Homo sapiens: one gene and its partner. The protein of the gene in region 1 interacts with the protein of each later gene in a pairwise test. Each region holds a gene or a part of one and is shown in the gene's direction. Other genes may lie near its edges. The genes, in order: RDH11 and ROBO2.

The links.
Region 2: the proteins of RDH11 (region 1) and ROBO2 interact in a two-hybrid assay, tested with the Homo sapiens proteins (one large-scale study listed by BioGRID and IntAct).

The regions. Positions count from the first base shown.
Region 1 is NC_000014.9:67,678,457-67,682,282, reverse strand, and holds part of RDH11 (retinol dehydrogenase 11), read left to right. Parts: intron 1-3,826. UniProt on the Homo sapiens protein: Retinol dehydrogenase with a clear preference for NADP. Displays high activity towards 9-cis, 11-cis and all-trans-retinol, and to a lesser extent on 13-cis-retinol.
Region 2 is NC_000003.12:77,046,447-77,050,272, forward strand, and holds part of ROBO2 (roundabout homolog 2 isoform 23 precursor), read left to right. Parts: intron 1-3,826. UniProt on the Homo sapiens protein: Receptor for SLIT2, and probably SLIT1, which are thought to act as molecular guidance cue in cellular migration, including axonal navigation at the ventral midline of the neural tube and projection of axons to different regions during neuronal development.

The DNA.
Region 1 (3,826 bases):
TTAAATTTTGATGAAGTCCAGTTTATCTATTTTTTGTCACTTGTGCAGTCATATCTAAGAAATCATTGCCTTACCCAAGGTCACAAAGATTTACTACTGTCTTTAGTAAAGACAGTTTTCTGTTACTAAACAGAATACCACAGACTGGGTAATTTCTAAAGAAATTTACTTAGCTCATGGTTCCGGAGGCTGAGAAGTCTAAGAACATGGTGCCTGGCATTTGGTTAGGGCCTTCTTGCTGTGTCATAATATGGCAGAGGGCATCACATGGTGAGAGGGCAAGCAAGAACAAACCCACTCCCATGATAGTGACATTAATCCAGGTATGAGGGCAAAGCTTTTATTAATTAATCTGTTCATGAAGGCAGAGGGACTAAGTTTCCAACATGTGATTTTTTAAGGGATACATTCAAACTATAGCAACCCCTATGTTTTCTTCTAATAGTCTTATAGTTGTAGCATTACATAGGTCTGTGATCTGTTTTGAACTATTTTTATTTTATTTTATAATTATTATTTTTTTGAGACGGAATCTTGCTCTGTGACCCAGGCTGCTCACTGCAACCTCCGCCTCCTGGGTTCAAGCAATTCTCCTGTCTCAGCCTCCCGAGTAGCTGGGACTACAGGTGCACACCACCATGCCTGGCTAATTTTTGTATTTTTAGTAGAGATGGGGTTTTGCCACGTAGGTCAGGCTGGTCTCCAACTCCTGACTTCAAGTGATCCCCCTCCTCGGCCTCCCAAAGTGCTGGGATTATAGGCATGAGCCACCACACCCGGCCTTGAACTAATTTTTGTATATGATATGAGGTAGGGGTCAACCTTCATTCTTTTGCATGTGGATATCCAGTGCCTTAGCACCATTTGTTGAAAAGACAGTTTTCTACCCATTGAATTGTCTTGGTATCTGTATTAGTCTGTTAAGGCTGCCATAGCAGAATCCCACAGACTGGGTGGCTTAAACAATATAAATTTATTTTCTCACACTTCTGGAGACTGAAAGTCCAAGATCAAGGTGCTGGCCTGGTTGGTCTCTGGTGAGGCCTGCCTTCCTGACTTCCAAATGGATGCCTTCTCTCTGAGCCCTCGCATGGCCTTTCCTCTATGTACACACACTCCTGGTGTCTCTTCCTCTTTTTATAAGGCCCTGTTGGATTAGGGCCCCGCCCTGATGACCTCATTTAACCTTAGTTACCTCCTTAAAGGCCCTCTCTCTAAATACAGTCACACTGGGGGTTAGGGATTCAACATATTAATTTTGGGGGAACACAATTGGAGTATAACAGTAAGCTTGTCAAAAATCAATTGACCATAAATATAAGGGTTTATGTTTCACTTTTCTGTTCCGTTCATTTGTATGTCTGTCCTTATGCCAGTATCACACTATCTTGATTACTATAGCATTGTAGTAAGTTTTGAAATTAGTTTATCTTTTACCTATACTAATTCTTAGCAAAATCCCCCTGGAAATGTCAATACTGTGACCATGCTGATGCCATAGGCACACTTAACTAGCTCTTACTTGGCTGGGCGCGGCGGCTCACGCCTGTAATCCCTGCACTTTGGGAGGCTGAGGTGGGCAAACTACTTGAGCCCAGGAGTTCAAGACCAGCCTAGGCAACATAATGAGACCCCATCTCTATAAAAAATGCAAAAATTAGCCAGGCGTGGTGGCGTGTCCCTGTGGTCCTGGCTACTTGGGAGGCTGAGATAGGAGGATCACCTGAGCCTGGGGAGGTTGTAGTGAGCTGCGATCACACCACTGCACTCCAGCCTGGGCAACAGTGAGACCCTGTCTAAAAAAAACAACCAGAAAGCTCTTGCTGTAGTATTTGATTAGTTTTTATAGCCTACAAGGAACCTTCATGTCAACTGTGTTCTTTGCTCTTAACTGTAACCTTATGAAGAGTATAAGGCACAGTGCAGTGGAGGATGCAGAGGCTTACAAAGGCTGAGTCATTTCCAGAGAGATACAGAGCCTTGTGGTTCTCACTGATGATCTTTTCACTAGGAAATGGCAAGTTGTACTGGTCATACTGGTGAGTCTTCTTAAACAGAAGTACTGATAAGACTTGTTTTGTAAACGTGACGATATTTTGAAATGGTATTTCTCAAACTTTAGTGTGTTCAAGAGTCATCTGGAAAACTAGTTGAAAATAGATTCCTGGACCACAACCCTAGAGATTCTCATTCAGTATGTCTGGAGTAGGGCTGGAGAATTTCTAACAAGCTCCCAGTTGATGCTCCTGCTGCTGGTTTGTGGTGCACACTTTGAATCCCACTGTCTTACTTGACATAGTGTTAAGAGTTTGCATATATAGTTAATTCAGACTTGTCAACTCTTTCACCTTCAGAATTTGCTTAGATACTGAGGAAGCAATTTTCTTGAAATAGTATACTTTTAAAAATTGTTTCCTCACATGACTAAAGATTGTAATACATTCAATCATTTTTTTTAAAACTTTGACTGAATGCTTACCAGATGTATACCAGATCCAGAGAATACAAAAATGAGTCAGAATTGTCCTTAAGAAAATTTTCTGCATCGGAATTATAAAATTATAAAACTTGGAATTACAGGCTGGGTGCAGTGGCTCATGCCTGTAATCCCAGCACTTTGGGAGGCCGAGGCAGGTGGATCACTTGAGGTCAGGAGTTCGAGACCAGCCTGGCCAACATGGCAAAACCCTGTCTCTACTAAAAATACAAAAATTAGCCAGTCATGGTGGCAGGCGCCTATAATCCCAGCTACTCTGGAGGCTGAGGCAGGAGAATTGCTCAAACCTGGGAGGCGGAGGTTGCAGTGAGCTGAGATCGCATCACTGCACTCCAGCCTGGGCGACAGAGTGAGACTCCGCCTCCAAAAAAAAAAAAAAAACTTGGAATTAATTACAGCAATGAAGAGAGGGTATATGAAACACTTTGCTATGATTTGAATGTGTCCCTCAAGGTTCATATGTTGGAAACTTAAGCCTCAATACAACAGTATAGAGAGGCAGGGCCTTTAAGAGGTAAATTAGGTCACAAGGGCAGCCCTCATGAATGGTTTAATGCCATTATCTCTGGAACGGGTTCATTATCTTGGGAGTGGTTCCTTATTAAAGGATGACTTGTGTCCCCTTCCCTCTCTTGCCCATGTCATGCCTTCCATCTTGTTATTACACAGCAAGAAGGCCTTCATCAGATGCCAGCCCCTTGATCTTGGACTTCTCAGCTTCCATAATCATAAGCCAGTTTCTGTATGCTCATTATAGTTACCCAGTTTGTCGTATTCTGTTACAGTACCACAAAATGGACCAAGACACCTCGTACCTTGGTTTTACCATTTCTTTTCTGTGTCGCCTTTTCCTTTTGTTGTTTTCGAAGCTGGCTTTACTTCTCATATGAGTTTACTAACAGTATAACTTCAAGGAGTCCAGAAATAAGCATTTCTTTTTTTTTTTTACTACTCCAGGCATCTCTGACCAATGTGAATAGCAGGATCTCAGCTATATGACATTGTCCAAGGCTCTGTAGAATGGGCCTTATGGACTTACTTGAAGAAGATGGATATACATGGGTGTCAGGCAGGCACTAATATTAAATTATATAAATAGGGGAATATAAAGACCAAATGTATGCATTATATATCAAACAAAGCATTCTGATGAGAGGTGGTCTAGCGAGGAGATCTAAAATGGTAATTACATTTTCTCTGGCTAAGGACTGGAGAATGAAGAGATAAGGACAAACACTGGCCCTGTGAAGTACATGGAGAACATGTGATCCCTAGTTGTTTTTATGTCATATTCCTTATCCCTGGCAGATGGCAGACTTCATTCTTAAC
Region 2 (3,826 bases), on another chromosome or scaffold:
CAGAGATCTCAGCAATAGTAAATATAAATCATAGAATGATAGCATCTCGGAGCCATTATGAATATTTGCAGCTATATTGCACAACTCTCTTATTGGTTGGGCACATGGAGAACTGAAGCTTAGAGATTTTATGTGCCTTGTCACAGATCCCATTGCTACTTAGTGGTAGAGCAGAAACTAGACTCCAGGGATGCTTCATCTCTGTACCAGGCTTCTGCCTATGAGAGACTGTTTCTGGATTCTTAGCCCTGGAACTCCTTAACAAGAATTCCAGGCTCTTGTTACTGAAAATGACCAGCTATTTTCTGAAGAGTCCATGAGAAAATGAGCTTGAATATGTTTAGGTTATTCCTTTGATTCAACACATGCATATTGACAACATAACTTGCTTGGCTCTGTGAAGAACATGCTGACCTGTGAAAATATTCCCACATTCAAGGAAGTCATGACTTGGTAGGGAAGGTACCAAATGTTCAAGTCACTAGAATAAAAAAAGTAGTGTCTGATAAGTAAGAAGTTTGAAGGTGTACACAGTATAGTCTTGAGAACTCAGAGAAGGAATAGGTGATTTCCAGCTGGTACAATCTGGGAAGGGTCAACACCAAATGGGTCTCTTAACCTGGACCTTAGAGGAAGAGTGGGATTTTGGTGGGCAAAAAGATTGGAAATTGAATTCCAGGAAAAGAAGTAACCAGAAAAATGGCATGAAGATGACAAAGGGGTGCTAAGGAAATGGCAAGAAGTCTAGATTGATTGCAACATAGTTTGCCTGTAAGGAAGAAGGATAAGATGGTTATTGAAAGACTACTGAGCAATCACTACTGAATGAGTATGAACAAGTAATTTAACCTTTTTATGCCTCAGTGTCCTTACCTGTAAAATGGGCATGGTAATAATGTATATCTCATACAGTTATAATGAGAAATAAAATAGTTTTAAAAATATAACGATATATAGGCAGGGCATGGTGGCTCACGCCTGTAATCCCAGCACTTTGGGAGGGTGAGGTGTGTGGATCACCTGAGGTCAGGAGTTCAAGACCAGCCTGGCCAACATGGTGAAACCCCCTCTCTATTTAAAAAAAATACAAAAATTGGCTGAGCATGGTGGCAGGTGCCTGTAATCCCAGCTACTCAGGAGGCTGAGGCAGGAGAATCATTTGAACCCAGGAGGTGGAGGTTGCAGTGCCAAAATTGTGCCATTATACTCCAGCCTAGGCAACGGGCAAAACTCCGTCTCAAAAAAATATATATAATGATATATATAAATAAATAAATATATATATAAAATAAAGATGTATATAAAGATATATATGGGCTGGGCGCGGTGGCTCACGCCTGTAATCCCAGCACTTTGGGAGGCTGAGGCAGGTGGATCACGAGGTCAGGAGGTCGAGACTATCCTGGCTAATACGGCGAAACCCTGTCTCTACTAAAAATACAAAAAAATAATTAGCCGGGTGTGGTGGCGGGCGCCTGTAGTCCCAGCTACTTGGGAGGCTGAGGCAGGAGAATGGCTTGAACCTGGGAGGTGGAACTGGCAGTGAGCCGAGATCGCGCCACTGCACTCCAGCCTCGGCGACAGAGTGAGACTCCGTCTCAAAAAAAAAGATATATATGATGCCATGAACAGTGTACTTTATAAATGCCACTCAAGCATAACTTATTGTTATAATTAGTAGTATTTTTATTAGATTATTATTCCCTGCCTAGTATGAACAAGGAAAATAACTAGAAGAGGACTTTGCTATCAGACTAATTATGGACTACAATTGGGGTGCATGTTAGGACAATTTTAATAAGATTTTTCAGCTGTGAGTCTTCAGGTGACTGATTAAGAATTTTTGTTGCCTCTTAAGGGAACTTATCGGTGGCCTCGCCTACACAGCTGTGACAGTTGTGCTATGACATGTGTGTTTCCATTGCATCATAAGCTGATTACAAAACACATGTGATTCCCAAGTGAAAGGTGCGACGAATGAAGATAGTAAACAAGAGAGGAATCACACAAATGGCAATTTGTTAGCAAGTAGACCATGCTTGTGTAAGCCTGCATTTTGGTTCATGTTGGCTGATTTACATTTCATCCTGGATAATTTTTACCTGGTGCTTTGATATAACGTACTGTGGAGATAAATCTTGTGTAAGACAAACTAAATAAACACTTTGAGAACCGAAGACCTAAGTAAAAATTAACATTTGGTATCCACTCACTAATTCGTTTTCTAGATAGCCCCCTTAGCTTCCCTTCATTTAGTATAAGACATTGAATCTAATAACTTTTTATAATTATCCATTAGTTACATTTGCACAATGAGTAGTTATGCATATCAGAAAGGATAGCCTGAATAAAACAATATCATTACTATTGTGGAAGTGACATACCTTTGGTGACCAGATCTCTGGACTGCACTGTTAGCTTCCCTAGTGGATTGTTAATTGTTCTAATTGCCTTAGAACCTTACCAAAAATGGTTTCATTTGACTGTGTAATTTCCAAGGTCTCCATGAACCTTAGGTTTTATTATCCCAAGTACTTCTGTTTAATGTTCCAACATTTATTGTTATATCTGAGAATTTTTAAAGAAGAAAATTTAGCCTGGGCTCGGCGCAGTGGCTCACCCCTGCAATCCTAACAATTTGGGAGGCTGAAGCTGAAGGATCGCTTGAGCCTAGGTGTTTGAGACCAGCCTGGGCAACATAGTGAAACCCTGTCTCTACAAAAAAGAAAAAAAGTTAGCTGGGCATGGTGGTGTCCACTTGTGGTCTCAGATACTTGGGAGGCTGAGATGAGAGGATTCCTTGAGCCCAGGAGGTTGAGGCTGCAGCGAGCCATGATTACACCACTGCACTTTTGCCTGGGTGACAGAGGCCCCGTCTCCACACACACACTCACACAAATTTAGGCTTGAAAAGAATTATCCAAAACCATAAACATCCATCTTTAAAAACAATAACAGTCTATTGTCTAATATGCATGTAGCATATCTGTGTTTTGGTGTGGGTTCAATGATATGGCTATGGATATGCATGACAGCCAAAATTAACTAGTCTTATGATTCACATCCACTCTCATTCATTAATGACCAGTGGTACTTAGGCTTTCCTTATCAATAAATGGAATTTTAAAAATTTAATACTAAGGAGACAATAGTCTTAGGTCAATGTGCTTAGTTTCTGGCCACTATAACTAGAACCATATGCAACATGGAAATTTTAGCTCAGGAGAGGGGGTTAACAGCCACTTTTTAATTTCTGTTGTAAGGATTGATGTGGGATCTCTTTCCCTAGACTTTGGTTCCAAGCTTTTTGGAAATGAGCTGGAGAACATGGAATATAACTCAACTATCCCACTGAAAGGCTTTTCAAGTTTAAGCAAGGAACACCCAGTTGAAACCAGACTGGAATTTAAGGGATTTGGACCAAACCTCTGCAGCACTTATAACCAATTAAAATGTTCATAAGTGTGATTCAAAAAGGGAGAATTTTGACTTTCCAAAAAACTTGAGTTAAGAGTTATTCATTATAAAGGAAAGTTTATAAGTTTTTATAAATCAAGGTTAGAGTCGTACTTAGAAGTTTTATAATACGTATATTTCCAAATACTAGCAAATGCTAGAATATGATTAAACTTATTTAGATATATCCGATTATTATAAAATATAGATTTCAGGGTTAGAGTAAATTAGGGGAAATTTAGAATGAATCTAGCAACAGGCACTCTTGTATTTTATATCTCTATTATAAAGTAAATTTTAATACGTTGCCAGATAACAGTACAGTTATTGAAAACCAAGCTTATTATTGTTCCATTAAATCAGAGACAGC